Linked DNA regions of Homo sapiens: region 2 is linked to region 1. Evidence: fine-mapped expression QTL. A gene starts in region 1. The other region holds a variant in brackets. All regions are shown on one strand. Distances are from middle to middle.

Region 1 (15,966 bases):
TCATCTTTATATCAGGGTAGTCATGAAATTTAATTTTTAATTTTTTTATAGTATAAGGAATCTACAAAGGCAAAAGCACCCAGGGCCCACGAAAGTTACAATGTGAAAGTAAATTTTTTTTCTCCCTCATTTCCCTGGACAATTCCAACAGACATGCTGTTCTCATTTTATACAAAGATAATTGGTGTCCTGATGGATAAAGCTACATACTGTATTTTTTAAATTTGAAAGCAAATACCCAATGTTCATAAAATTATGGTACAAACTGTAGTACTTATTCACTGTTGATGATACAAACTGATACAATCTTTTTAAAAAACAAAATCTTAATACGAGGCAAGAGACATGAAGGTAACCTCTTCCCGCCTCATTTTAAACCCAGTAATCCATGCCTAGAAATGTATTTTCAGAAAATAATTTAAGAGATACAAAAATATGTAACCACAACAGGACCTAAAATTCTAAAAATTAGCCAGGCATGGTGGTACACGCCTGTAGCCCCAGCTACCTGCCAGACAGCGGCGGGAGAACTGCTTGAGCCCAGGAGTTTGGGACCAGCCTGGGTAAGGTAGTGAGACCCTGTCTCTAAGGTAAGTAAATACATAAAATTAAAATAAAAATTTTAAAAATGCAATCAAGGCCAATGACCAACATTAAAGTTCAATAAATGATTATATATAACTATACATTATCATAGCAAAATACTATATAGCCATCAAAAATTACCAAAATAAATATTAAAAGATTAGAAATGTCCACTACCTTGAGTCAAAGTGTTAGAAGTCAAAAAACAAGTAACTGATTGTTTGCAACTCCGAAAAAAAATGTATACACGTATGTGATGAAGTGGAGTTATTTTTAGAATCGCTTCTTCAACATTATATTGCAGGAGTCTGCCAACTTTTTTCATAGAAACATGTATGGTGGGGAGAGCCAGAGAGTATCTATTTTAGACTTTGTGGACCAAACCCTCTTTGTTGCACTACTCTGCTCTGCCTTGTGTTGTAGAGTGAACGCAGCCATCGACAATGTATAAATGAATGGGCATGACTGCGTCAATAAAACGTATATACAAAAACAGATCGTGTAATTTGCCAAGCCCTGTCATACGTCTTTTCACTAAAAAGGAAAAAAAAAGTATCAGCATATTGAATTGAAAGTGACCTCCAAATTGTTTTATTTCTTTTTGCCGCCTAATTGGAGTACTCGGAGAACTATTGTGGTTCTAATGAAAAACAAAGGCCGTTTCAAAAGTTAAAATGCCTATCTGCGGATGCACAAAAACCTATGGAACCTATTCCGGGATTTCCTTTTCCCTGATCTCTGGTTGACTTTTCTTTATTCGATTTCTGCCTCTCCCTCACCCACCATGGGTGTTTCTATGATTTTAATACTAAAAAGCCATTTTAAGTATACAGAAACTTTTAATTTGTGAAGGTAGCTGTACAGTATCTAAGGAAATATAGATTGCAGTGGATTTTAATAAGGAAAGAGTCATTCTCTGCCTTCCAAACACCTTTCTGTGGCGCCTGCAGATTCAGCATCTCCAACTGCTCACTTGTGCTCCAAGAAATGACACAAAACCAGGATTTCTGGTCTCTTCGGCAATCAAAATTTGCCTTGCGAAACATTTGCCCCTAGGGATAGTGTTTCCACAGTAAATACTACAGGCCGCCCAGTTAAATATGGATTTCAGATCAACAAGGGCTAATCTTTTAGTGTGAGTATTCCCGTGTAAAACTTACTTTTCTTTTGCCAAATCTGGCAACCCGACACCAGGGACCTGTTGAATCCGTGCTTAGTAGAGACCAACGTGGGCATCAGGGGGTCCGCTAACTGAGCCAAGCGCAGGGGCCAGAAACGTCTGCAGGCGCCTCCTGGATATCCCATCTGCCTTTCTGAATGCTACTCTGCTTTCGTAAAAGTGACTGCTTCTTGTCTTCTACCCCGGCATTTCTCAAACTCCTAGCGCGGAGGTTTTATAAACCTAGCGCTGCCCGCTAGTTGTGGCCGCCTTCTGAAAGTTTCTGTGCGGGTTACCTGTCGGCTGGCCCGGCCTCCATGGGCTTCCTTGGCCTGGAACAAAGCCCTGACGGGCGGCCCGCTTTTAGCGCCAGGGCTGGGCGGCCTCGGATGCACGCCGAGGACTAGCCTAGGAGAGGCTGCTGTGTTTAACATATTTATGACATTACCTTTTCTTTCGGAACTATTCCAGTTCTGATTGTAATGCGCCAGGGAGAGAGATATCAGGGCTCATCTCCAAGCATTTAAAAACTCTTGTTTTTCCGGGGGGTGGAGGGGTCTTTGCAAATGTGTTCTCACTCGCAAGCAGGGGAGGGGACGATAGAGACAAGATAGGAGACCGGAGGGGTCGGGGCACCGCTGGGTGGGGCGCGTGCGCGTGTCGCAGCCCTCACTGTGAGTCCCTTTACCGACGCGATCTTGGTTTTGAGGGGTGGGGACCTGGAGCGAAACCCCAAACCCGGGGCCCTGCTTGCAAACTCAGCATATTCTGTCTCTACTCCGCCTTTTTCAGAGGAGAAAAGACCTGGCCCACGCCTCCCAGAGGCTTTACCTGGTGAAGAGGAGGAGCAGCCACTGCAGCGCGGTGGACAGGGTGTCCTGGCTGGCGCCGAAGATGTCAGTGATAGTGGCCGGTACGTTCTCCAAATCCAGCCGCGCGCCACCACCGTGCGAGTCCCCGGCCGCCTTCTTTTCCGCAGAGAGGATAAAGGCGTCCATCATGTCGCGGGGGGCGGCCCCGGGCCGAAGGCTTTCGCAGTGCCTCAAGAACTTGTCCAGGATGAAGTTGCTGAAGTTGCGGTTGAGCTGCTCGAATTCGCGGAAAACGGTGCGCACCGGGTTGGGGAAGTACTGCAGCCAGGGCATCACGTCCACCAGGCTGCCCGCGCCCACCGTGCGCCCGAACTCTTCGTTGTGGCTGAGCAGCTCACGGAACTCGGGGTCGTCGTGGCTGTAGCGGCAGCCGAAACACACGGCACTCATGACGTTGGCCACGGCCACGACGGTCAGCGGCCTCGGGTCGAGGAAGGCGCCGTCCGCGCTGCCGCGCACCAGCAGCGCCACCAGCTCGCGCGCCTCGCTCAGCACGTGGCCCTCGAGGACTTGGCGGCTGCGCGGCTGGCGCGTGAAGAAGTTGCGCATCATGCTGTGGGCTGCGCGCCGCTGCACCTTCCAGTGCTCCGAGTAGTGGCCGAAAGCCATGCTGCGGCCGCCGGACACCACACGGAAGGAGGCGAAGGCCGGCCGGTCGGCGAAGGCCGAGCCCTGCTGCACCAGGGCCTGGTGGATGGCGCGCTCGCCATTCAGCACCACTATGGGGCAGCTGCCCAGGCGGATCTGGAAAACGTCGCCGTAGCGCCGCGCCAGGCGAGCGAACGAGAGGTGAGCCGCCTGGCCCACCGCCGCCGCGTTTCCGATCAGTGGCCACGCAAACGGGCCCGGGGGCGCGGACCGGAGCTGCCGCCTCCGTTGCCTCAGCAGCCGCTGGCCCACATGCACAGTGGCCAGCACCGACAGGAGTAGCAGGAGCGTGGTCTGCTGGATGGACAGCGGGTTTAGCGGCCAAGGGTCGTTCGGGCTGAGGCTGGTGCCCATGCTGGGGACAGAGAGGAGAAGGCGTGACACTCAGGGGTGCAGAGACAGGAGCGGGCGCCCCACGCCCCTACCCCAGCCTCTGGGGACTGAGTGCCGTTGGGTGGAGAGGTCGGAGCTGACTCTCTGGAGAAATGGCCGAAGACGCCCCTTCCCATCCCCAACCCACTCTCCCTTGGAGAAGAGAAGGGGCGTGTTTCCACCTCGCTGTAACCCAGCGCCAAACCCTTCCCCTCCCCGCAAGGCGCGTAACGGTTCCTGCAATCTGGGGACAACGCTGCGGGCATCGAGGCGGTGGCGCTTGATTTCCTTTAAAGTACCTACCACGCCACCCGCTACCTGTAATAATCCATCTGAAGAGGTCGCCGGGCAGCGCCTCGGCAGACAGACTGACCTGCGGGGAGGTGCGGTTTCCAGTGGCGCGGGACAGCCGGCTCCGAGAAGGAACTGGGACCTTTGCCTAGGGCAAGACGTCAACAGGAACCCGCAGGCCCGGCCTGGACACCTGCTGCCCTCACTGGAAGCTTTAACTCCCACTCGAGTCTCTTGGCGTCGTCAGTGCCAGGAGCGCTTGGATTGGGATGGGGACGGAGAAGGGTGCCTCGCTCGCCGAGCCCCGCTGCCCTTGGGGACCTGGCAAAGTCGAGGTTTCCTCACAGCGTTGAGATTGAGACTGGGGGTCGGTGAGTGGCGTCAATTCCCATGCCCTTGCGGCTCTCACAACTGGAGTCGCAGAAGCGCTCGCTCCCACTCCCACTCCAGAGTCAAAGCGCGCCATCCCGCTCCTCCGGGTTTTAAGGACTGGGTAGAAGGAGGGCAGCGCGACCTGGCAGGGCGGGGCCTGCGGGGGGCGGGGCGCGCCGCACACCAGGCCGCTTTGACCCGGACTCCCGTCCAGGCGCACCGGCCGGCCTCGGAGCTCTACCAGCAGGCTTTCATGGGAGCGGAGGTGCCCACGTTTCCATTGTGCGGTAACCGCGCTTCATCACAGCCACCTCCAATCGAGGCCGCACGGTGTCCCCAGAACCACGCTCGGTACAACCTGCCCCGGCCGCTGCGCTCGACTTGGGAGCGCGCCCCGCCCCGAGCGCACGACCTCCCTTCCCTCTCCGCGACTTGAGCTTGCTTCCCGGAAAGCCAGTGTAGTGGCAGCGGTTTGCCTCACAGCGCCCCTGGTTGGTTGTTTAAATTTTATCTTAGGTTCTCGCAAACAAATTGCCACCTCAGTGGAGGCTCTTTGGCATGCTAAATTTTTTCCAGTTCTTGCGGCGAGATCAGGAATCCCTAAAAGTAGCCGCTCCCCCGCCCCGGGGCCCCGACAGTGCTTGGGCACACAAAGGCTCCTGGGGCGCAGCTGGCCCTGAGATTTCCCGCGTAGAGGCCACTCCAGGTGGCGCCGCCCGCTGGTGGGCGCGGGGCCGCCCAGGCTGCGATGGAAGCCGTTGGCGCAGGGCGGGGAGCCAAGCTGGGGCGACTGGGGGGGCCTGGGGGAGCTAGCGGGGCGGGACCCGAGCGGGGCGGAGAGTGGCAGGAGGAGGCGAATCTCCGCGCTCCGGCGAACTTTATCGGGTTGAAGTTTCTGCTGTCGCCTCCCCTTTGCGTGCGGAGCTGGGCTTTGCGTGCGCCGCTTCTGGAAAGTCGGCTCCAGTCATATCCCTGGGCGCTGCCTGCGGCCGCTCCTCCCGCGCTTCTCACGGCACCTGACACGCGGAGGCGGCGGCCGAGGGTGGGGTGCCGGCCACCACCACCCTTGGCGTGGGGTGCCGGCCGCCACCACCCTCGGCTGCGCACGCACAGTCGCGCCTGCCAGGCCAGCGAGGCGGACGCTTGGGCCACCACCCGCAGGCCGAGCCCGGGCGCGTATCGCCACCTCGCTGCGCACCGGCGGCTCTGTGGTCTTCCTGGGCGCGCTTGCGGTCGCGAAGGGGGCCCTCCCTTTATAAGGGAAGCCGGAGGCGCTTGGGCGGGGGTGGCTTCCCCCGCCTGGCGCGCCCTTTCCTACATGCTGATGCATAGGATTTTCAAGACAGCTAAGAGAACAAGGACTTCACGAGGCGGGGGGAAGGGCGAACTCGAGGGAAGAGGTGGGATGTATCTGGTTAACCAGGTAGGAATTGTACTGGCTTCATCAAAGGATAAATATAAAAGTGATAGGTTCACCAGGGACAACCCTGCACTTTGAGCTCCACTCGCGCTGCGAATCTCGTGCTATTATTGACCTGTTTACAGATGAATAAACTAGGGTTCAGAGAGGTTGCGTGACTTAACCCAGGTCGCGCAGCCATCAAGAAGTGGAGCCAGGGCTTGAAGCCACCAAGTCCCACTCCAGATCCTTCACATAAGTTTACACGGAAGAAAATTGCAGATAAGAGGCCCAAATGCCTTCTTTCCTGCCTCCCTTAAAAAAAAAAATGCACGTGGGGCTAGGCGCAGTGGCTCACGCCTGTAATCCCAGCACTTTGGGAGGCTTAAGCGGGCGGATCACTTGAGGTCAGGAGTTCGAGACCAGCCTGGCCAACATGGCGAAACCCCATCTACTAAAAATACAAAAGTTAGCCGGACGTGGTGGTGCACACCTGTAATCCCAGCTACTCGGGGATCAGGGGGGAAGGCAGCAGAATTGGTTGAACGTGGGAGGCAGAGGTTGCAGTGAGCAGAGATTGCACCACTGCACTACAGCCTGGGCAGCAGAGTTTAAGTGAGACTCTGTCTCAAAAAAAAAAAAAAAAAAAAAATCAGCTGGAAGAACTTTTTAATTATTGTTTTTGTTTTCATAATTGAGAATTCTGAGAATAGCAGAGAAGAAATAGTATGCTAACCCTTTGCAATTAAATTGCTTATGAGGGAGGCCAGGGGAGTGTGCCTCATAGCTGACCCTGGAATGACTGATTACATTGTAAAGAAACACAAAGGAGTGTCTGAAAAGAATCTGACTTCTTGAGAGATTGAAACCAGCAATCAATTTGCTGACCTGATAAAGAAATGTCTTTTCGTGATGGCTTTTTTTATTTTTATTTTTATTTATTTATTTTTTTTGAGATGGAGTCTCACTCTGTCACCTGGGCTGCAGTGCAATGGCGTGATCTCGGCTCACTGCAACCTCCGCCTGCCAGGTTCTCCTGGCTCAGCCTCCCAAGTAGCTGGGATTACAGGTGCGCACCACCACACCCGGCTAATTTTTGTATTTTTCTAGTAGAGATGGGGTTTCACCATGCTGGCCAGGCTGGTCTCAAACTCCTGACCTCAGGTGATCCACCAGCCTGGGCCTCCCAAAGTGCTGGGATTACAGGCATGAGCCACCGTGCCCGGCCTGTGATGCCTTTTATTCGGTATCTTTTGAAGAGTTTTCTGGAAATGATTTCACACACCATGATGGGGAACTTAGATAGTGATGGAGTTTTAGTTTTTGAGCAGTTGCATTGGTTTAATAATAAGCGTTGGTTTCCCAGAGGTGAGTTGGCCTACACAGCCTTTGAAATGAGTTTCATAGCAACCTTCCCATGTCCAGCTTTAGCAAGATCCTTGCCTAATAATTCAAGACTCTGGTGCATGCATCAATCTCTCATAGACTTTAATTTAGTAGACGGGAATTATCTATGAGCTAATGCCAATCCTGAGCTGTTGACATTCCTGAAAGCCTTTATCACAATACCTCTGCCAGAATGAGAGCAGATGGAAGTTGCCTTTAAGTAAATTCCTATTTTTAAAAAGTATAAAACGAGGTTGTTCCTAAGACCGCCTGTCCAACTCCTCAATAATGCCATCTAGTTTTTAGATCAACTAGATGCATGCTTTCCTGCCATCGCAGATAGATCAGATATATCCTCCAAGCTGTAGTTCCTTGGGCTCAGCTCTTTTTCTAGGACATGACTCAAAAATCAGAGGAACTAGGTTGGTAAGTGCTGTCAGAAAGATAAGCCCTTATCGGTTATGGCAAACCAAAATGACTGGCTATGGTAACACTTTTTGCAGAGAATCTTCAAGCCTGGAGTTCTTAGGGCTTTATGGTGCAAACTTCATTGAATGCCCCATCCGGTACCCTGATAAGGACTTCGGATAAATCCAGAGCAGCCTGTTGGCACCCCGACCCAACTCAAGGCAGAGCCCTGCCTCTAGTGAGAATCTACGCAGGCTCTTTAATTATCATCACAACTTCTCAACCAAAGCAGGGACCTAAGGCCCAGGAATCTCCTTTCAATCAACACAGAATATGGGCATTCTGCCCTCCCAAATCTCAAACTTGAATTGTTTGTTGCAAATAACTTTCAAAAAGAACAGCTAAGCTAGAGGGATAGTTTAAAGTAGAGAGAGGTTTAAAATATCTTATCTTGTATTGACTCGAAGGAACAACTTAAGCTTGTTTAAGCAGAACAGGAATGCACTGGCCCATGTGCAGAGAAGGATAACCGTGATGCTTCACAGGATACAAGGACCCAGGCCGCTCTACCGGCTCTCTGCCTATGCTGGTCTTTGCTTGGGCTTTCTCTCTTTGCATGGCAAGGAAGCAGCTTAAAATTAACAAAACAAAGAGAAAGAGAACAGCTCTCTTCCAGGGTCCTAGAAGGACTCCAGGGGGCCAGGCTGGCATCAGGTTTTTACCCTGTGGGCAAGGGCTTGTTCTGTCATCAGAAAAAAAGAGATGGCAGAACATGCTAGGAAGCCAAAGAGCTGACCCAGTCCACTCCATGTATACATGTCTGCCCACTGGTTTCTTTGGGTTGGAGGATAACCTAAGGAAACCCAAAGCCATTATTGTTATTATTATTTTAAATCAGCAGATATATGCATTGCCCTTAGAGCCAGTAGCCCAGAAAGCTCTGCCCTTCTGCTGTCAGGCTGGAACTCAGTTTTCTTCATGGTCTTCCTCTCTAGTGTGACCCCTAAGTCAGTTTAATGGGTAGCCACTGTGCTTTTCCAGTCATCTCCAAACACACATACCCACATGCACTGAGGAGAGTGGAGGAGAATAAGCCATCTCTGGTAGGCTCTTGACATTTGGGTGGGCAGGATTCAGTCATCAGGCACATGCTGGTAGGCAAGAGGAGCAGAAATAAGGAGACACACCAAGTGGCTGAGGGTGCGATAGAGGGAGGAACTGTAGGATAATGCACACCAGGGGCTGGACCATGAAAGGAATCTTAGGAATTGATACCAAAACCCTGTGCCTCACCTGAAATGCTCCACTTCCTTCCTCCTGGCAATACACAGGCAGAGAACCACAGAGCTAATAGAAAGGTATTTTATCTAATCTCAGAAGCCATCATTTGTAGGATGCACCCTTATTTTTATGTACTAACATAAAGAAAGGAAGCTACCAATTATAATTGCATCATCGACTCTAAGATACATCCAGATTTCGGAGATGTAAAATGGAAAGTTGAGGGTATGATTTGGAGCTGACAAAGCATTATACATTTCATGCGCGTCCGTGTGAAGAGACCACCAAACAGGCTTTGTGTGAGCAATAAAGCTTTTAATCACCTGGGTGCAGGTGGGCTGAGTCTGAAAAGAAAGTCAGCCAAGGGAGACAGGGGTGGGGCGGTTTTATAGGATTTGGGAAGGTAAAGGAAAAAGGGGGGTTGTTCTCTGGCGGGCAGGAGTGGGGGTCACAAGGTACTCAATGGGGGAGCTTTTGAGCCAGGATGAGCCAGGAGAAGGAATTTCACAAGAAAATGTCATCAGTTAAGGCAGGAACAGGCCATTTTCACTTCTTTTGTGGTGGAATGTCATCAGTTAAGGCAGGAACCGGCGATCTGGATGTGTACGTGCAGGTCACAGGGGATATGATGGCTTTGCTTGGGCTCAGAGGGCTGACATTCCTGTCTTCTTATATTAATAAGAAAAATAAAACTAAATAGTGGTAAAGTTTTGGGACAGCGAAAATTTTTGGGGGTGGTATGGAGAGATAATGGGCGATGTTTCTCAGGGCTGCTTCAGCGGGATTAGGGGCGGTGTGGGAACCTAGAGTGGGAGAGATTAAGCTGAAGGAAGATTTTGTGGTAAGGGGTGATATTGTGGGGTTGTTAGAAGGAACATTTGTCATTTAGAATTATTGGTGATGGCCTGGATACAGTTTTGTATGAATTGAAAAACTAAATGGAATAAGAGAAGGAGAAAAACAGGTATAAAAGGTCTAAGAATTGGGACAACTCAGGACATCTGATTAGAGAGTGCCTAAGGAGATTCAGCACAGTCCTGCCAGCAAAGATTATTTATTTACTTCAAGAGTTAAGAGTGGCAGTTTGGGGATAGCACCAGGAGATATCAGCTGTGATGGCTTGGAGAAACAGCGTAAACCGGCAGTGTAAATAAGAGCAGGGCGTGTATGAGTAGTTGAGAACGGTGAATAGGAGTATGACTAGACAGAAGATAATAGGGATGATAAGTTTTTTTGGGGCACAGTCTAAGTTGGTCTGGTGTCTGGAATGAGACTGGGGCCTAATAAAAAGGAGCGTCTATACAGGAGCTCAAATGGGCTGTACCTTGTAGCATTCTGAGGACAGGTCTGACTTCTGAGAAAGGAAAGTCGTAAAAGTATTGTCCAGTCCTTTTTAAGTTGGTAGCTGAGCTTGGTGAGGTGTGTTTTTAAAAGACCTTTAGTCCGTTCTACTTTTCCTGAAGACGGAGGACCATAAGGGATATAAAGATTTCACTGAATACTAAGAGCCTGAAAAACTGCTTGGCTGATTTGACTAATAAAGGCTGGTCTGTTATCAGACTGTATAGAGGTGGGAAGGCTAAACTGAGGAATTATGTCTGACAGAAGGGAAGAAATGACTGCGGTGGCCTTCTCAGACCCTATAGGAAAGGCCTCTACCTATCCAGTGAAAGTGTCTATTTAGACTAAGAGGTATTTTAGTTTCCTGACTTGGGACATGTTGAGTAAAGCTAATTTGCCAGTCCTGGGTGGGGGCAAATCCTCAAGCTTGATGTGTAGGGAAGGAAGGGGCCTGAATAATCCCTGAGGAGTAGTAGAATAGCAGATGGAACACTGAGAAGTTATTTCCTTGAGGATAGATTTCCATGATAGAAAGGAAATGAGAGGTTCTAAGAGGCGGGCTAGTGGCTTGTACTATAGCATAGCCTGCCTTTGCTGGTGTGTGGCGATTAGGCCTGGTGGAACTGCCATCAATAAATCAAGCGTGATCAGGGTGAGGAACAGGAAAGAAGGAAATATGGGGAAATGGGGTGAATGTCAGGTGGATCAGAGAGATACAGTCATGGGGGTCAGGTGTGGTATCAGGAATAATGTGGGAGGCCGGATTGAAGTCCGGGCCAGGAACAATAGTAATTGTGGGACTTAACAAAGACTGAGTACAGCTGAAGGAGCCGGGGAGCAGAAAGTATATGCGTCAGGTGTGAGGAAGAAAATAGATTTTGGAAGTTATGAGAAATGTAGAGAGTGAGTTGAGCATAGTTTGTGATTTTTAGGGCCTCTAAAAGTATTAGGGCGGCAGCAGCCGCTGCATGGAGACATGAGGGCTAGGCTAAAACAGTAAGGTCAAGTTGTTTGCATAGGAAGGCTACAGGGTGCGGTCCTGGCTCTTGTGTAAGAATTCTGACCGCACTAACCATGCCTAGGAAGGAAAGGCGTTGTTGTTTTGTAAGGGATTGAGGTTTGGGAGATTAATCGGACACGATCAGCAGGGAAAGCACGTGTGTTTTTATGAGAATTATGCTGAGATAGGTAACAGATGAGGATGAAATTTGGGCTTGACTGAAGTAATGGGGGCTGTCTGTGAAGCCTTGCGGCAGTACAGCCCAGGTAATTTGCTGAGCCTAATGGGTGTCAGGGTCAGTCCAAGTGAAAGCAAAGAGAGGCTGGGATGACGGGTTCAAAGGAATAGTAAAGAAAGCATGTTTGAGATCCAAAACAGAATAATGGATTGTGGAGGGAGGTATTGAGGATAGGAGAGTATATGGGTTTGGCACCATGGGGTGGATAGGCAAAACAATTTGGTTGATAAGGCATAGATCCTGAACTAACTTGTAAGGCTTGCTTGGTTTTAGGACAGGTAAAATGGGGGAATGGTAAGGAGAGTTTATAGGCTTTAAAAGGCCATGCTGTAGCAGGCAAGTGATAACAGGCTTTAACCCTTTCAAAGCATGCTGTGGGATGGGATATTGGCATTAATCGGGGTAAAGGTGGTTAGGTTTTAATGAGATGGTAAGGGATGCATGATCGGTCACCAAGGAGGGAGTAGAGGTATCTTATATTTGTGGGTTAAGGTGGGGGAATATAAGAGGAGGACGCAAAGGAGGCTTTGGACTGGGAAGAAGGGCAGCAATGAGATGTAGCTGTAATCCAGGAATAGTCAGGGAAGCAGATAATTTAGTTAAAGTGGCTCGCCCTAATAAGGGAACTGGGCAGGTGTGGATAACTAAAATGAGTGCTTAAAAGAGTATTGTCTAAGTTGCCACCAGAGTTGGGGAGTTTTAAGAGGTTTAGAAGCCTGGCTGTCAATACCCACAACAGTTATGGAGGCAAGGGAAACAGGCCCTTGAAAAGAAGGTAATGTAGAGTGGGTAGCCTCCGTATTGATTAAGAAGGGGACGGACTTACTTTCCACTGTGAGAGTTACGCGAAGCTCGGCGTCTGTGATGGTCTAGGGGGCTTCCAAGGCAGTCGGGCAGCATCAGTCTTCAGCCGCTAAGCCAAGAAGATCTGGGAAGCAGTCAGAGAGCCTTGGGCCAGAGTTCCAGGGGCTCTGGGAGTGGCTGCCAGGTGAGTTGGACAGTCCGATTTCCAGTGGGGTCCCACACAGATGGGACATGGCTTAGGAGGAATCCTGGGCTGCAGGCATTCCTTGGCCTGGTGGCCAGATTTCTAGCACTTGTAGCAAGCTCCTAGGGGAGGAGGTTCTGGAGGAACGCCTGGCCGCTGCGGTTCAGGCGTTTGGAAGTTCTTGTGTGCTGGAGATGTGGCTGGGGTTTGTCTCACAGTGGAGGCAAGGAATTGCAACTTTTTTCTATTATTGTACACCTTGAAGGCGAGGTTAATTAAATCCTGTTGTGGGGTTTGAGTGCCAGATTCTAATTTTTGGAGTTTTATTTAATGTCGGGAGCAGATTGGGTAATAAAATGTATATTGAGAATAAGACGGCCTTTTGACCTTTTAGGGTCTAGGGCTGTAAAGCGTCTCAGGGCTGCTGCCAAAGGAGTCACGAACTGGGCTGGGTTTTTATGTTTGATGAAAACGCTATCTGATTTGGGATAAAGAAAAAGGAGCATTAACCTTGACTGTGCCTTTAGCTCCAGCCACCTTTTTAAGAGTCAATTGCTGGGCAGGTGGGGGAGGGCTAGTCACGAAACGAAACTGTAAGGCAGACCAGGTGTGAGGAGGGGAGGTGATAAAAGGATTATAGGGTGGAGGAGCGGAGGCTGAGGAAGAATTGGGACCTAGCTGGGCCTGGCGAGGAGCAGCCTGGGGAGGTGGGGAGAGGTCAGATGGGTCCGTAGAAAAGGAAGATTAGAAAGCCTCAGCGACGCTTGGGGTTGGGACTGAGGGGACAGGTGGGAGGGAAAGAAGGAAGATTTGGGATGAGTTGCATTGGGAACAGAGACTAGAGAGGGACCGATGTGTAAAAGAATGCCTGGATGTCAGGCACCTCAGACCATTTGCCCATTTTACAACAAGAATTATTTAGATCTTGTAGGATGGAAAAATTGAAAGTGCCGTTTTCCGGCTATTTGGAACTACTGTTGAGTTTGTATTGGGGTCAAGCGGCATTGCAGAAGAAAATAAGATGCTTAGATTTTAATTTAGGTGAGAGTTGAAGAGGTTTTAAGTTTTTGAGGACACAGGCTAAGGGAGAAGAAGGAGGAATGGAGGGTGGAAAGTTGCCCATAGTGAAGGAAGCAAGCTTAGAGAAAAGAGAGAGTAGAGACATGGAGGGAAGGGGTTTGGGGGTTCTTACCTTCCAGAAAAGCGGGAAAGGGGTTGGGGCACGGAGAAGAGGTTGGGGCACGGAAATAAGGGATGGGGGCACAGAGATTAGAGGTTGGGGTGTGGAAATAAGGGATTGGGGCACAGAGATATAAGAGGTTGGGGCGCGGAAATAAGAGATTGGGCGCAGAGATAAGAGGTCGGGGCACGGAAATAAGGGATTGGGGTGCAGAGATACGAGGTTGGGGTACTTGCCCCTCCTCTAGAAAAGCAGGACTTGCCGCTCAGGGTGAAGGAGAAGGGGTTGGGGATTTCTTGCCCCCCAGAAAGGAGGAGAAGGGGTAGAGACACGGAGAGAAGGGGTTGGGGTACTTGCCCCTTCCCCAGAAAAGCAGGACTTGCCGCTAAGGGTGAAGGACCAAGGCAGGCGTCCCTGCATGGTCTGACACCTCTGAAACCTGGGTGAATAATCATTGCAGTCCCTGCAATGATTAAACACCAAGGGAAGGCTGCCTTCCCAGTCCCTGACCGGCGCCGGAGTTTTGGGTCCACGGATAAAACGTGTCTCCTTTGTCTCTACCAGAAAATGAAAGGAATTGAAATTAAGAGAAGGGAGAGATTGAAGAGTGGAAAGGAGAAAGTGGTTGAAGGACAGTGAGAGAGGTTGGAGAAGAGAGTAAGAAGAGGCCGCTTACCCGATTTAAAATTGGTGAGATGTTCCTTGGGCTGGTCGGTCTGAGGACCTGAGGTCGTAGGTGGATCTTTCTCATGGAGCAAAGAACAGGAGGACAGGGGATTGCCCTCCCAAGGGAGGTCCCCCGATCCGACTCATGGCACCAAATTTCATGCATGTCCGTGTGAAGAGACCATCAAACAGGCTTTGTGTGAGCAATAAAGCTTTTAATCACCTGGGTGCAGGCGGGCTGAGTCCAAAAAGAGAGTCAGCCAAGGGAGACAGGTGGGGCCGTTTTATATGATTTGGGTAGGTAAAGGAAAAAGGGGGGTTGTTCTCTGGCAGGCAGGAGTGGGAGTCACAAGGTACTCAGTGGGGGAGCTTTTGAGCCAGGATGAGCCAGGAGAAGGAATTTCACAAGACAATGTCATCAGTTAAGGCAGGAACAGGCCATTTTCACTTCTTTTGTGGTGGAATGTCATCAGTTAAGGCAGGAACCGGCGATCTGGATGTGTGCGTGCAGGTCACAGGGGATATGATGGCTTAGCTTGGGCTCAGGGGCCTAACAATACAGGCTGACAAGGATTCTTTCTTTGTATTAAGCACTTTCTAGATTTCTTGGAGTGGTTAGCACCAAGGGTATTGGCTACCAATCCTCATTTCTATTAATATTATTTCATGTAGACAAATGTAGACAATTGATGTTTTCTCAATCCTATGTAAAGTTGGTGAGAAGGTGATTTAGAAGATTCTGCTATTTTTATTGACCTAAATTAATCTAAGAAAAGATAGTCACTTGCTAAGTAGTTGCAGCTTAAAACAAGTTTCCTACTCCTGCTCCCCTTCCAATCTCGTTGCCCATGAGCTCTGTCTGGTATTAGTGAAAGTGACAGAAATACATGTAGTGAAAGCTACATGTATTCTAGTTCCTCACCAAAATGCATATTTAGAGGTAAAGGGGTGTAATGTCTGCCACTTACCCTCAAATGGCTCAAGGAAAAAATAGAGGGGTTTGGGGAGAAGGAGAGGGAGAGAGAGGAGAATGAGAAAGTAAGTGTGGTCAATGTTAATTGGAGAATCTGGGTAAATGGGAGTTCTTTGTGATTCCTTGAAACTCTTCTGTAATTATATCAAAATTAAAAGTTAAATATAAGAACATAAAAAAAGATCTTCCCAACATTTTGATCTTACATTGCCTTCTTAGCTTCTCTTGAGGGTTTCTTGTAAGCAAGGACAGTGGAAAGAAAGTGGGATTAGTCTGCTGTTCAGGGTCCTGCATCTGATGTGTCACTCCTGGAGTTCAGGACTAATAAAAAGTTTGTGCTCAATTGCAGTCTTTCTCCTCAGCACTATGGATTATAACCTGTACTTTCTGTGCCGTCCTTGTTCTTTGAATGGCTTGAGTGTGTCTTGTCTCTTTTATCTTAGGCTTTCTTCAATTCCTTTTGAAAGCAGAAGAAATATGATATAAGGCAGTGTCATGCCCTTAGTTCTACTGTGCCCCTGTGTTAAGGGGCATAATCTACTCAGGGTTCTATGTGCTTCATAAATGCAGCAAATGGTGCTGTGCTTTAATGGTTTTTCCCAGCATCATTCCCAGTTCTTTCCTTTGGTTTGCTTCCTTCTGCCCTTTTCCTTCCCCTTGCTTCATCCTTCTTTCTTCTCTCTCATTCTGTCTCTCATTTTCCCTTTCTCTGGGTCCACTCCTATCTTCCTCACCCTCATTCCCTCAAGACCTCCACTCTCGTCTCAGGTGCCCCCTTTTCTGTTCTGCTGTCTCCCTTCCTCTCTT
Region 2 (15,966 bases), 49 kb after region 1:
AGTGCTTTATACATAGACCATGCCGTAAGATATTTGTTGAATAAATGAGTAAATAATTCATATGTCATGCATAATTGTTGAAGGAAGTACAGTTGGTTAACTCAGAGAATAAAAGGTACAGAGGACATGACAGCTCATGTCACATACCTAAAGGGGTACCACAGAGAATAGGGAAAAGATGTATTCTCTCTTGGTCTTTGGATCAGAATGAAGACTATTTAGTGAAAGCTACAGGAAAGCAGCTTTGACCCAGGATTATTATTATTTTGTGTATCCACCATAAATAACTGTGTGAGGCTCGGGTACATTCTCACACTCAAACTTTAATTTGAGCATTAGAGGGATATAGAAAGAAATTTGGGCTTGTGGCCAGATTAATAACTTGTTCAAGAAATCTTTACTGAGATAGTGCCAGAGGATGCTGAGAAGCAGGGTGAATAAGTAACCAAAAAGGCAGGGTTTCTTCCTTTTTGAAGCTTCCGGTCTATTCAGGAATGCAGACAAGTCAGCAGGTAATCACGGTGTGCACAGGTGAGATGGACTGTGATAAGGGAAGTTCGGGCGCCTCCTGCAGTGGGTGCTCCAGCATCCCAGGGGGCTTAGATGAAGCAAAAATGGGGGATGTGATAGGGGTGGAGGATGATCCAGCATGCATATGAGCTCTAAGGCAGGACAGAGTGGCACTTTGGAGAACCCTCCACCGTCCTTAAACCAGCCCCACTTCCCACTTCCAGTTCTACCCACTCTTGGCTTAGGAAATTTTCTCCTCTTTTTGCCCTGAAAATTAGCCTTGGTGGCTGAGTTTTGCTTTTCAGGTTCTCATTGCTAGTGCTTATTTTGACGCTTAGTGACCATCTCATTCCTACTATTGGCCCGCAGTAGGGAATCAGACCTTTAGTAGACACGGAGCTCTTCAAATACAGAGTGAACTTGGGGCATCTGATCATGTGGGTCAAGATGAACACTACAGAATACAACTGAGAGCCACATGTGAGTGAAGCTGTACTCGAGCTGACAATACTGACATTCAAAAAGCAACAGGATGATGAGAATGTTCTGGAATTAGAGGGTAGTGATAGTTACACAACCTTGTGAATATACTACTGCACACCTTAACATGGTGAATTTTATGGTACGTAAATTACATCTCAATAACATTTAAAAAAAAAAAAAAAAGCAGCAGCAGATGGCTGCTGGAGGAGGCTGAGCTTAAATACCCCTGGTTACACTTCCTCCTTTCCTTGTATTTACTGGAAGGAGAAGGATTTGTCCTAAGATGAATAGTTTTTTCATCTTCAGAAATTCCTGACAAGCTACTACCCTGTCAAGGCATGAAAAATTTCATTAGTGCTGACTTGGTACACAGTCTATTAATTAGTACCTAAATAATTGCATGTTGCCTCTGTGTCATGATTTATAATTGTATGCATGCTTTGATCTTTCTCATCACAGGCAGCACTGAGAAGTGAAGGAATATTTGGGAGGATCAGAAGCTTGGTCCTGATTTTGCCATCAACAGGAACTTGATGACTTCAAGGGAGTCCCCAAACCCTGGGTTTCTGTTTTCTCAACTCTAACATGAGGGGCTAGATGCATCTGGTTTAGTTAGTCTCCATGATGGTTTAGTTCGTCTCCATGATCCTGTGAATTTCAGATGTTGAAAATCTTCGGAAAAGCCCTGAAAGATGAACAGGTAGGAGTTATTGTCTATATTTTACCCATGAGGAAACTAAGGACCTGGGAATCTAGAGGGCTCATTAGCTTTTGAACCAGTACTAGCAATGAGTTCATCTGAATTCTGGTCCCAAACTCCTAGCATGAGAGAAATGTGGACCTTTCATTCCAGGAGTTTAGCATGTAGGAGGTATTCAGCTGGTGAGGGATTAAGGCAAGATTACAGGTTCTTGAGAAACATAAGCGACAGAGACAAGAACATCAGAAAGGGCCGCTGTGACTCGGGTCGTGGCTGCCGATGGAGCTCGTAAGTCAGGAGAGGTTGTTTGCTGAGAAGCTTGCATTCCCTAGAGCCCAAGTGGGTGTTGCCAGGAAACCCTGAGTTTTCCAACTTGGCAATCAGTGCACAGCTGAGTTTTTATAGGAAATTGCCCAGCTCTTTGGAAATTGTATGTGGTATAAATATGGTTTTGAAATTCTATATATTAGCTTAGCAAAAGGCGGAAATATTTTGAAACCCATGGATTTGGGAGATCTGCCGGCATTGCTATTAAAATTACTTTCAGCAGAATTGTACAATATGACATTATATTGCTCAAAATGACTCAATTTTCTAATCTTTGAGACTTCTTAAAAAGAAATGAACCCCAAGTAGAGTAAAGGTGGACTGCAAAAAACAGCTTAGTCTGAATGAAAAAAATTCATCCTTGGCTCTGCATCTAAGAAACTGGCTGTGTGTCCTCAGACAATTCACTTAATGTCTCAGATCCTCAACGTCTTCAACTGCAAATAAAGGGGTTAGAGGAGATCATCTTTAAAGCCCAACTCAGCTCTAACATACTATGATTGGATACCATACACTTGTCCACATTCTTTTCTCTAGCACTTGGGGATTTCTGCTCTTCCAGCCTTTACAAATACAACCTTTCACTGTCACACTCATTCTTCCTTGTCCTTAAAACAGAAAGCCCAGGCATAGTCTGATGCCACTTCTGAGGGCTATAGCAGGTGGCATCTAGTGTCTCTATAGTAACTATTTACACTCCTAGGGAAAATTATCTCACAGAAGCATAGAGAGCCTGACCTTGTCTATAAAGACAGTAAGGTACAATGATTAAAAGAATAGGCTCTAAAGTCAGGCAGACCTGGGTAAATCTGCCACCTACTAGAGAGCTTGGGCAAGCAAGTTCACCATGCCTGGTACCTAGTGAGTGCTGTGGGCCTCTATTCTGGAGGGACAGCAGGGCCTTACGAAACCAGCATGAGATTGTAAATGCCTTGCAGGCTGGATTTTCAAGAGGAAATGCTACCCCCTTTTTCTCCAACATCTCTGGCAAAATTGCTAACCCAAAGGTACTAGGCCCAGCTAGTTATGAAGGGGATGGAAGTGATCTCTATCCAAGGGAAGAACATTTGAATTGATGTTTAAAGGAGTTGTTTAGATTCTTATGAAGGAATAGAGGAAGAGTAGAGGCAAAGACAGAGAAGGGGATGGATGAGAATAAAGAACAAGAAAAGAAGCAGTAGGAGACAAATGAGAAGGTTAAAGCTGATAATTTTTACTTTTATGATAAAAGGAATTTCTAAGCAAATTCTAACCATTTTATCAAGAAGAAACAAATTCACTAACTTATATTTCTGCTTAAAGAAATGCATGGGCATTTTCTTCGCATGTGCAGTTTGTTTAAAAATTAGGCATTGAATGCTTTTTAAAAAATATCTAGATCTATTCTGGACATGCACATTCCAATTGATAGATAGATCAAAATGTCTGATTTTCTTACTGGTAACTTGGCACCAGTTGCCAGTGGCTTCATATGAACCTATCAGCTGCTGTGGGATGGCAGAGCAGTTAAGAGTCCAAGACTAGTCCACGCAGGCCTGCAGCTCCCACATTCTGATGCATCAAAGCCACAGCAAGTTCCTAAAACATAGGCTCTGGATCCAGATGCTTTTGGTTCAAATTTTCACTTCATTATTTCTCAGATGTGTGACTTATGGCAATTACTTACTTCTCTAAGGCTCACTTTCCACATCTGTAAAATAGGGCTAATGATAGTATTTGCTTCATAAGATTGGGGATTGAATGGGATAATGCACTTAGCTCAATACTCACCCATAAACTTTTTTTTTTTTTTTTTTTTTTTTTTTGAGACAGAGTCTTGCTCTGTTGCCCAGGCTGGAGTGCAGTCGTGCGATCTTGGCTCACTGAAATCTCCACCTCCCAGGTTCAAGCAATTCTCCTGCCTCGGCCTCCCATGTAGCTGGGATTTCAGGCACACACCAACACCCCCGACTAATTTTTTTGAATTTTTAGTAGAGACAGGATTTTACCATGTTAGTCAGGCTGGTCTCAAACTCCTGGCCTCAAGTAATCCGCCCACCTTGGCCTCCCAAAGGGCTGGGATTACAGGCGTGAGCCACCACTCCCAGCCAACAATATTCAATTACATACTCAATTACTATGTTCTTTTTCTGGTAACTAGAATGTAGGATCTTATGATTGGCCCCAAGTTCAAAGATATGGGCAAGTAAGTATAATATAAGAGTGTAGATACAGATTTTGTAGGATATATGCCATGGCCTCTGTCCCATATCAGTTTAATACCTATTTTCCAATGTAATGCCCTGAAATCCCAGAAGAGGAAAAAAGAATTTTTTTCTAACAATTAGAAACATGATAAAAAAAACTATCAAAGGTATATTCATTCAGCCATGCAAATTGTAAAACCATAGCAATCATTCTATTTGTTTGGTCACAGTTTAAAAAAGGAAATTTGCTATAAGAAAAATAAATACAAACAAACACAAAAAGAGTTGAATGCCACCTGCAGAAGAAGCACCAATCCAACTATTTTACCCTGCCCACATTCACCATGTTTCTCACAATTGCCTATAAAAAGTAGTCACCATTTATTGTACCAGGCAGTGAGCTAAGTGCTTTATGGACCCTGTCTCGTTTAACTGTCCCCAGAGTCCTATGAGTAGGTATGTTAGTGCCATGCCCATATCACGGATAAGGAGATATGCCAGGTCAGAGAGGCGAGTTGGGATTCACACGCAGCAGACTTGCTCCAGGGCCTGTGTTCTCAACACTGCATGGTGCCGCTTCTGATCTGGATTGTTAAATCTCAGCACCCAGCACTCCTGGCTTGGGTAGAAGGGAATGGGCCCAGAGGTGCTGAGAATGGATCTCATGTACACCTAGGGTCGAAGTTGGAACAGAGAGTATGTGGAGAGCCTGGGCTAAGACTGAAGCCGCCATGATGAAAACCAAACTCAAGCAGTCTTGTTTTTTAAAACCAATGGGAGTAGTAAAGTATAAATGTAAATCTCAGTTATCTTATCATGCCACCCTATAGGTGTTTCCAGTAGTTACTTTAGAGCTATCAAAGATACATCTGAAATAACGGTACTGTGTATATACTTGAGTCCTCTTCCCCAGCTTGACACTCCTAGGAGTCAGGTGTTCTCTGGGCCAGATCATTTGCCCACAAACATAGCAATATGCCTAGCCTTCTCATTATATAAGGTCCCCCATTATATGGGGGACCTTATATAATTTCATCATATGGATGAAAAATGGGATTATTTTATTATTTGACTCTTCTCTCTAGGATTCAAAGTGCTTTTATTTATAGATTTTCATGATTTAACCAATTCACCCAAGAAGTAGGAAGAGGGCAGCTTTATTATTTTCAAATTGTGGACTGAGAAACTGAGATATGCAGAAAGAAATAAAGCTGCTCTGCAATTTGGAAAACCATCTGTGATGCTATAAAAACGTCTCACTGTACTCTCAACCACATAAATCACTATTTTTATTGCCTTCTCTCTGGATGAGATGTGGCTTAATTTGAGAGAGCTGTTTATCATTTGGCAAGCTGAAAGAACCTAATTTCAAGTCTCCATTCTAGTGGGTGGTAAGAATAAAGGGAATTTGCTTTAAGGGAAGAGGAAATGATAAGAATGGGAAGGAAACGGTTAGACCTAAAAAAAATCGATTTTGAAACCCTTTGGATTATCATGGATTTAATTTGCCAAGCATGGGTGAGGGGTCACATGGAATGGGTTTGAATTCTAAGCCACCATTATGACCACTCACTTAATGTTTCTTCCTACCACTCCCATTCTACAGTGAGCCCATGATTAAGATAACAACAGCTTAAATGAGTTAGTGCATAGTATGGTTTGGCTCTGGGTCCCCACCCAAATCCCGTGTTAAATTGTAATCTTGAGTGTTGGACGTGGGGCTTGGTGAGAGGTGATTTGATCATGAGGGTGATTTCTAATGGTTTAGCACCATCCCCACAGTGCTGCCTTATGATAGAGTTCTCAGGCGATCTGGTTGTTTGAAAGCATGTAGCACTTCCGCTGCCCTTCTCCTGCTGGCCATGTGAAGGTGTGCCTGTTTCTCCTTTACCTTCTGCCATGATTGTAAGTTTCCTGAGGCCTCCCCAAAAGCAGAAGCCTTTACAGCCCACAGAACTGTGAGCTGATTAAACATCTTTCTTTATAAATTACCCAGTCTCAGGTAGTTTTTATAGCAATGCAAGAACAGACTAATGAAGAAAATTGGTACCAGAGAAGTGAGGCATTACTACAAAGATACCTGAAAATGTGGAAGCAGCTTTGGAACTGGATAATGGGCAGAGGGTGGAACAGTTTGGAAAGCTCAGAAGAAGACAGGAAGATGAGGAAATGTTTGGAATTTCCTAGAGACTTGTTTAATGGTTTTGACCAAAATGCTCATAGTGATATGGGCAGAGATGGCCAGGCTGATGAGGTCTCAGATGGAGATGAGGAACTTATTGAGAACTGGAGTAAAGGTCACTCTTGCTATGCTTTAGCAAAGAGACTGGTGGCATTGTGCTCCTGCTCTAGGGATCTGTTGAACTTTGACCTTGAGAGATGATTTAGGGTATCTGGCAGAAGAAATTTCTAAGCATCAAAGTGCTCAAGATGTGGCCTGGCTGCTTCCAAAAGCCTAACTCATCTGCATAAACAAAGAAATGACCTGAAAAGGGAGGCAAAGCATAAAAGATAGATAGGAAAATTTGCAGCCTAGCCATGTGGTAGAAAAGAAAAACCCATTTTCTGGGGAGAAATTCAAGCCCAATACAGAAATTTGCATAAGTAAAGAGGAGCCAAATATTAGCAGTCAAGACAATGGGGAAAATGCCTATGAGGCATTCCAGAGACCTTTGGGGCAGCCCCTCCCATCACAGGCCTGGAGGCCTAGGAGGGAAAAATGGTTTCATGGGGCCAGGCCCAGGGCCCTGCTGCTTTGTGCAGCCTTGGGGCATGGCACCCTGCATCCCACTTGCTCCAGCTACAGCTGTGGCCAAAAGGGCCCCAGATACTTCTCAGACTGCTGCTCCAGAGAGTGCAAGCCACAAGCCTTGGTGGCTTCCATGTGGTGTTAAGCCTGCAAGTACAAAGAGGATGAGAGTTGAGGCTTGGGAACCTCCACCTAGATTTCAGAGGATGTATGGAAAGGCCTGGATGTCCAGGCGGGAGTCTCCTGCAGGGGCAGAGCCTTCATGGAGAATATCTAGTAGGGCAGTGCAAAGGGGAAATGTGGGGTTGGAGCCCCCACACAGAGTCCCCACTGGGGCACTGCCTAGTGGAGCTCTGAAAAGAAGGTCATCCTCCTCCAGACCCCAGCTTGCACTGTGTACCTGGAAAATCCACAGGCACTCACATCAGTCCATGAAAGCAGCCACAGGGGATGTACCCTGCAGAGCTGCCCAAGGCCTTGGAAGCCCACCCCCTCCATCAGCATGGCCTGGATGTGAGACACAGAGTCAAGATTATTTTGGAGCTTTAAGATTTAATGACCGTCCTGCTGGGTTTCGGACTTGCATGGGGCCTGTAGCCCCTGTGTTGTGGCTGAGTTCTCCTTTCTGGAAATGGAGTATTTACCCAATGCCTGTACTCCCATTGTATCTTGGAAGTAGCTAACTTGTTTTTGATTTTACAGGCTCATAGGTGGAAGGGACTTGCCTTGTCTCCGATTAGACTTTGGACTTGGACTTTTGAGTTAATTCTGGAATGAGTTAAGACTTTGGGGGACTGTTGAGAAGGGATGGTTATATTTTACAATGTGAGAGGATATGAGATTTGGGAGGGGCCAAGGGTGGAATGGTATGGTGGGGCTTTGTGTCCCTACCCAAATCTCATGTTGAACTGTGATCCCGAGTGCTGGAGGGAGGGTTTGGTGGGAGGTGATTGGATCACAGGGGTGGTTTTTAATGGTTTAGCGCCATTCCCCCAATTTCTTAGGAAATCTGCTTGTTTGAAAGTGTGTAGCATCTCCTTTGCCCCTCTCCTGCTGCTAATGGCCTGTTTCCCCTTCACCTTGTGCCACGATTGTAAGTTTCCTGAGGCCTCCCCCAGAAGCAGAAGCCTGTACAGCCCACAGGAACCATGAGCTGACTAACCATCTTTTCTTTATAAATTACCCAGTTCTTTATGGCAACGTAAGAATGGACCAATAGAGCACATCACTAGGGTAGCACAAAGGAGAGGGCCCAGAAGCAGAGGAGAGATAAACAGCTCATTTTTTTCATCTTTCTCAATGTTTCTTGCTCACTCTCTGTTGTTTGCATCCATTTTTCATTTCATCCCATTTCCTCTTTTTTCCCTTTCATTTCCTCATTTTGGGACAGCAAGAGGTCATGTTCTTGCTGCCAACAGTTA[C/A]GACATTTTCAGTAGTCATGACAGCCACAAAGCCAGGGCTGGACTTGTCCAGAAGTCTGATCTGCAGCAGGAGGGAGTCTGTAGTGTGCAGGGGCTCTCCAGCTGTCACTTAGATCCCAAGCTGCCCCTTCACTTTTAATTTTGCTGATGGTGGCTTTTGTCAAAGGCAATTTAAAATTTAGGGCTAGGTAGTCTAATCTGTCAATCTTTTCTTTTCTTTGTGGTTTCCAGGTTTGTGTCTTACTTAGGAGGGCCTTCCCAATGCTAAAATTATATATATAAACAGATATACCACAATTGCCTAAACAGAAATTTGGGCAAGCTGGCACATTTGAAACAGGGCTGTCTCCTAAAATTTGGAACGTGTGGATAGCGTGCATATGCTTGGACTCTAGGACTTACTTTCTCTGGAAAAATCCGTCTAGCTTCCTCACTCACTGCCTCTGCCTCCCAGCTCCAGCCTAGCCATTTCATCTTATGGTGGGGGAGCACTCAGTTGCTAGGGCCAGAAACCCACTCAGAGTAACTTAAGTAAATGGGGATTACTTGCACAGTGATAACGGAATACTGTGAAACCCAGTTTGAAGAATTGCACCTGGATCACTGAAGGGCTAGAGTCTGGAGCTGCCCTTCCTCCTCCCTTTCTCTCAGTTATCTTTGTCTCTGCTCCATCCTCCCCCTTCGTCAAGCATACTCTGTTACCACATGACCTTAAATGACTGTCTAACTCAGTCCTTGAGCCCACAGAATCTTGTGAGTCTAGCACTCACAGATAAAAAAACACCCTCAGGCTTTCTGTGTCCCAACTCCAAGTTCTAGATAAAGATGTCTGATTGGTTAAAGTGGGTCATGTTTAAAGTGGGTCTACTCCCAATTCAGTTATTGGTGGCCAGGGCCATGAGCCACATGGTTGCCCCTTGGGGCAGTGGGCAAGGTAAAGTTCACAAGATGTGGTGGGGAGGAAATGACCACTGTAACTCTGTGGTCCAGTTCCCACACCCATATTGTGATTTTTGCTCCCCTTCAAGTTTGCCCTTGATGTTGTCTGTAACTGAATTCTGTTTTCTCCCATGGTTAGATTTATACCAGATCCAGGACCTTTTAGGGAGGGCTGTGGTCCTGTCCCCTTGGGGAGGCTCTGATCTAAGACTGCTCCCTCATGGAAATTAAGGAGAAGGGGAAAGCCTAGGCTACAGATGGAGAAGGATGAGTCATTCCAGCAGCCATGGCCAAGGGAACTCCTGGAGACGTAGGGACTGTTTATGTGGCCACTCACCATCATGCAGGCCCCCAATGGGGGTGAGGCAAGGAAGGACATAGAAAGACTGCTCAAGTGCATTTCTGGTTTTGCTTCCTACCGCAAACGACTCTTGTCATATGACTGGGGGAGTGTGGTGGTGGCAATAAGCAGAAAAATTTGAGTCTAAGAGTTGCTTTCTGAATTCTATTAGGGTCAATGTAGTCTAAAGAAGTTGACTTTTGAGGAAATAAATCTTTTCTGTTTTCTGCAGCCAGACTAAGGATTTAGTGGTGAATGGTAGGTGGGAACATAGTGGGACTCTGACTGCTCATACGGCCTCTGTGAGGCTCAATTCTTTTATCTCTAAAAGAGAGAACTGTCTACCTGGTAAGAGAAGATCTTTTGGGAGCCCACTAAACTCTAACATAATGTTATTATACAGTAAGTTCTCACTTAATGTCATCGACAGTTTCTTGGAAACTATAGCTTTAAGCAAAATGACATGTAACAAAAGCGTTTTTTTCTCATCAACGTTATAACAAAACGTTAAAGGAAGTGACATTATTTATGAACCTGCTGCATGTTGTTTTGCTTAAAGTTACAGATTCCAAGAACCTATCGATGACATTAAGTGAGGACTTACTGTACTAGTATCATTTATAACTTATAAAAATGACTTAATTAATATACCACAAAATATGCAGCTTTCATGTTAGAGACCAGATAAATATGAATATTTTGTTAAAATGTCTCTCTTCTCTACTTTACCAGTCTTCACCAACCTCCTCCCTCCAGAATATTCCTCAAGAATATAAAATGCCTCATCAACATGAGACAACAGCAGGAAGCACCCATTCGTAGTAATCCTCTGTATGGAGGAGGCTGTTACATAACCACAAAGGCACAAAGCTGCAGTTTTGAGAACATCTTCCCACGCCAGTTCTAAGCATTGACTTCAACTATGGTTGCTAACACAAGAATCGGCACTGGTGACTTTTGAGCCATCAATCATCCTTTCCTAACACATGAATCTTTTGGAAAAGTATGTGAGATTGGAGATTACCTGTGATGGTTTGGATTTAGATTTTGCCTCCAGGTTTAGGCAATGGTAAATAGGCAGGAGTTTAATAGGAACTAAGGTTATTTGATAATTCCTGGGCCACTGCAAATAGAAAGTGTTGGCAATTTTGTCTTTTGGGCTGCCTCTGATTGAAGGCACAGGCCTGTTTCATGAAGTTCTGAAACATGAACCGGCTGTATCTGCGTCAAAGTCAGTGGTAACCAGGTTAATAGCACTGACAACCATGTTCTTTTTACAGGAAACACAAACGTGAATCACTTGTTCTTACTTTTCTTTTACAGTGGTCTCAAATAGTCAAGACCCCCTGCTGGGAGGAGCTTCTATCCTGCTCTGTGGAAGAAATGGGCATGCCAGATGCCTGGAAGATCAGAGGCTCACATTCCAGGTGGGTCACCCTGGTTCTTCTCATCAGAATCAACTAGAGAGATGGGCTCCCTCTCCATCCCTACCCACGGGCATTGGTCAGGCTGAAAGCAAAGAAAGACAATCCATTGCCCCCAGGAGAACTGGTCTTACTCTAAATCAGTGGCCTGCAAACTGTTTATGTGGATGTCCGGATAGTACATTTTTTGCCTGTGTGGGCCTTCCAGTCTGTCTTAGTTACTCAACTCTGTGATTTTTGAGCAACCATTAGACAGTATGTAAATGAATGAGCATGGCCCCATCTGGCCCTCCACCCACAGGCCATAGTTTGCTGACTCCTGCAAGAGTAAAACCCTTTATGAACTAGAGAGTTCCAGGCTTGAACATGGGTCCAGAAAATATGGGAAGGCAAACCTCACACATTTGTGGTTGTGTGCCTCCTAAGTGCTTTGTGTCACTGTTGGCTTCCAATTCCTAGGAAGGGCCTTGGGCACCAACCGTATGTTGACCCAGGGAGAAAAGGACTTTTGGGAGTGAGAGTCAGAGAATGGGTACCACGTACCCTTCAGATCCCTCAGCTTTCAGATTGACACAGCAACAGATCATAGTCTCCTAAATTCTCTGGCTTAAAGCATGGAGCCACACTTATCCTGCCAGGCTGGGTCCCCAGTTCTTAGATGAGGCTAGCAGTAGCCATGAGGAGTGGGCATGTGGCTAGTACAAGAGAAGGAATGCTAGGTGGCACTTGGTCAGCAACTTTCCAATATCATGTTTCTTAATTGTATCACCAAATGTGTATTATCGTCCTGTCTTTTTTTTTTTTTAATTATTATACTTTAAGTTTTAGGGTACATGTGCACAACATGCAGGTTTGTTACATATATACACATGTGCCATGTTGGTGTGCTGTACCCATTAACTCGTCACTTAGCATTAGGTATATATCCTAATGCTATCCCTCCCCCCTCCCCACACCCCACAACAGTCCCCGGTGTGTGATGTTCCCCTTCCTGTGTCCATGTGTTCTCATTGTTCAATTCCCACCTATGAGTGAGAACATGGGGTGTTCGGTTTTCTGTCCTTGCAATAGTTTGCTGAGAATGATGGTTTCCAGTTTCATCCATGTCCCTACAAAGGACATGAACTCATTATTTTTTAGGGCTGCATAGTATTCCATGGTGTATATGTGCCACATTTTCTTAATCCAGTCTATCATTGTTGGACATTTAGGTTGGTTCTAAGTCTTTGCTATTGTGAATAGTGCCACTATAAACATACGTGTGCATGTGTCTTTAAAGCAGCATGACTTATAATCTTTGGCTATATACCCAGTAATGGGTCAAATGGCTGGGTCAAATGGTATTTCTAGTTCTAGATCCCTTAGGAATCGCCACACTGACTTGCACAATGGTTGAACTAGTTTACAGTCCCACCAACAGTGTAAAAGTGTTCCTATTTCTCCACATCCTCTCCAGCACCTGTTGTTTCCTGACTTTTTAATGATTGCCATTCTAACTGGTGTGAGATGGTGTCTCATTGTGGTTTTGATTTGCATTTCTCTGATGGCCAGTGATGATGAGCATTTTTTCATGTGTCTTTTGGCTGCATAAATGTCTTCTTTTGAGAAGTGTCTGTTCATATCCTGTGCCCACTTTTTGATGGGGTTGTTTGTTTTTTTCTTATAAATTTGTTTGAGTTCATTGTAGATTCTGGAGGTTAGCCCTTTGTCAGATGAGTAGGTTGCGAAAATTTTCTCCCATTCTGTAGGTTGCTTGTTCACTCTGATGGTAGTTTCTTTTGCTGTGCAGAAGCTCTTTAGTTTCATTAGATCCCATTTGTGAATTTTGGCTTTTGTTGTCATTGCTTTTGGTGTTTTAGACATGAAGTCCTTGCCCATGCCTATGTCCTGAATGGTATTGCCTAGGTTTTCTTCTAGGGTTTTTATGGTTTTAGGTCTAACATTTAAGTCTTTAATCCATCTTGAATTAATTTTTGTATAAGGTGTAAGGAAGGGATCCAGTTTCAGCTTTCTACATATGGCTAGCCAGTTTTCCCAGCACCATTTATTAAGTAGGGGATCATTTCCCCATTTCTTGTTTTTGTCAGGTTTGTCAAAGATCAGATGGTTGTAGATATGCAGCATTATTTCTGAGGGCTCTGTTCTGTTCCATTGATCTATATCTCTGGTTTGGTACCAGTACCATGCTGTTTTGGTGACTGTAGCCTTGTAGTATAGTTTGAAGTCAGGTAGCGTGATGCCTCCAGCTTTGTTCTTTTGGCTTAGGATTGACTTGGCAATGCGGGCTCTTTTTTGGTTCCATATGAACTTTAAAGTAGTTTTTTCCAGTTCTGTGAAGAAAGTCATTGGTAGCTTGATGGGGATGGCATTGAATCTGTAAATTACTTTGGGCAGTATGGCCATTTTCACGATATTGATTCTTCCTACCCATGAGCATGGAATGTTCTTCCATTTGTTTGTATCCTCTTTTATTTCATTGAGCAGTGGTTTGTAGTTCTCCTTGAAGAGATCCTTCACATCCCTTGTAAGTTGGATTCCTAGGTATTTTATTCTCTTTGAAGCAATTGTGAATGGGAGTTCACTCATGATTTGGCTCTCTGTTTGTTTGTCTGTTATTCGTGTATAAGAATGCTTGTGATTTTTGTACATTGATTTTGTATCCTGAGACTTTGCTGAAGTTGCTTATCAGCTTGAGGAGATTTTGGGCTGAGACAATGGGGTTTTCTAGATATACAATCATGTCATCTGCAAACAGGGACAATTTGACTTCCTCTTTTCCTAATTGAATACCCTTTATTTCCTTCTCCTGCCTAATTTCCCTGGCCAGAACTTCCAACACTATGTTGAATAGGAGTGGTGAGAGAGGGCATCCCTGTCTTGTGCCCCTTTTCAAAGGGAATGCTTCCAGTTTTTGCCCATTCAGTATGATATTGGCTGTGGGTTTGTCATAGATAGCTCTTATTATTTTGAGATACATCCCATCAATACCTAATTTATTGGGAGTTTTTAGCATGAAGGGTTGTTGAATTTTGTCAAAGGTCTTTTCTGCATCTATTGAGATAATCATGTGGTTTTTGTCTTTGGTTCTGTTTATATGTTGAATTACATTTATTGATTTGCATATGTTGAACCAGCCTTGCATCCCAGGGATGAAGCCCACTTGATCATGGTAGATAAGCTTTTTGATGTGCTGCTGGATTAGGTTTGCCAGTATTTTATTGAGGATTTTTGCTTCAGTGTTCATCAAGGATATTGGTCTAAAGTTCTCTTTTTTTGTTGTATCTCTGCCAGGCTTTGGTATGAGGATGATGCTGGCCTCATAAAATGAGTTAGGGAGGATTCCTTCTTTTTCTATTGATTGGAATAGTTTTAGAAGGAATGGTACCAGCTCCTCTTTGTAACTCTGGTAGAATTCGACTGTGAATCCATCTGGTCCTGGACTTTTTTTGGTTGGTAAGCTATTGATTATTGCCTCAATTTCAGAGCCTGTTATTGGTCTATTCAGAGATTCAACTTCTTCCTGGTTTAGTCTTGGGAGGATGGATGTGTTTGAGGAATTTATCCATTTCTTCTAGATTTTCTAGTTTATTTGCGTAGAGGTGTTTATAGTATTCTCTGATGGTAGTTTGTATTTCTGTGGGATCGGTGGTGATATCTCCTTTATCATTTTTTATTGCATCTATGCAGTTCTTCTCTCTTTTCTTCTTTATTAGTCTTGCTAGCGGTCTATCAATTTTGTTGATCTTTTCAAAAAGCCAGCTCCTGGATTCATTAATTTTTTGAAGGATTTTTTGTGTCTCTATTTCCTTCAGTTCTGCTCTGATCTTAGTTATTTCTTGCCTTCTGCTAGCTTTTGAATGTGTTTGCTCTTGCTTCTCTAGTTCTTTTAATTGTGATGTTAGGGTGTCAATTTTAGATCTTTCCTGCTTTCTCTTGTGGGCATTTAGTGCTATAAATTTCCCTCTACACACTGCTTTGAATGTGTCCCAGAGACTCTGGTATGTTGTGTCTTTGTTCTCTTTGGTTTCAAAGCACATCTTTATTTCTGCCTTCATTTCATTATTTGCCCAGTAGTCATTCAGGAGCAAGTTGTTCAGTTTCCATGTAGTTGAGGGGTTTTGAGTGAGTTTCTTAATCCTGAGTTCTAATTTGATTGCACTGTGGTCTGAGAGACAGTTAGTTATAATTTCTGTTCTTTTACATTTGCTGAGGAGTGCTTTACTTCCAACTATGTGGTCAATTTTGGAGTAGGTGTGGTGTGGTACTGAAAAGAATGTATATTCTGTTGATTTGGGGTGGAGAGTTCTGTAGATGTCTATTCGGTCTGTTTGGTGCAGAGCTGAGTTCAATTCCTGAGTATCCTTGTTAACTTTCTGTCTCGTTGATCTGTCTAATGTTGACAGTGGGGTGTTAAAGTCTCCCATTATTATTGTTTGGGAGTCTAAGTCTTTTTGTAAGTCACTAAGGACTTGCTTTATGAATCTGGGTGCTCCTGTATTGGGTGCATATATATTTAGGATAGTTTGCTCTCCTTGTTGAATTGATCCCTTTACCATTATGTAATGGCCTTCTTTGTCTCTTTTGATCTTTGTTGGTTTAAAGTCTGTTTTCTCAGAGGCTAGGATTGCAACCCCTGCCTTTTTTTGTTTTCCATTTGCTTGGTAGATCTTCCTCCATCCCTTTATTTTGAGCCTATGTGTGTCTCTGCACGTGAGATGGATTTCCTGAATACAGCAGACTGATGGGTCTTGACTCTTTATCCAATTGGCCAGTCTGTGTCTTTTAATTGGAGCATTTAGCCCATTTACATTTAAAGTTAATATTGTTATGTGTGAATTTGATCCTGTCATTATGATGTTAGCTGGTTATTTTGCTCGTACAGTTTTT

Evidence for each region.
Region 2: its variant is fine-mapped to the expression of CYP1B1 in whole blood (INTERVAL, PIP above 0.99).

The regions. Positions count from the first base shown.
Region 1 is chr2:38,071,771-38,087,736 of GRCh38, forward strand. CYP1B1 (cytochrome P450 family 1 subfamily B member 1) reads right to left here and starts at 4,381. Exons shown (of 3, transcript NM_000104.4): 1 at 4,010-4,381; 2 at 2,576-3,619. The coding sequence starts at 3,618. RefSeq lists a promoter at 4,362-5,737, cis regulatory regions at 4,376-4,383, 5,304-5,333, silencers at 4,377-4,466, 5,377-5,496 and an enhancer at 5,204-5,402.
Region 2 is chr2:38,120,533-38,136,498 of GRCh38, forward strand. CYP1B1-AS1 (CYP1B1 antisense RNA 1) reads left to right here and starts at 10,573. Exons shown (of 3, transcript NR_027252.1): 1 at 10,573-10,658; 2 at 10,979-11,082. The region is part of intron 2 of LOC107985871 (a long non-coding RNA gene); the gene reads right to left. The variant C/A (reference allele first, on the strand shown) is at 8,377.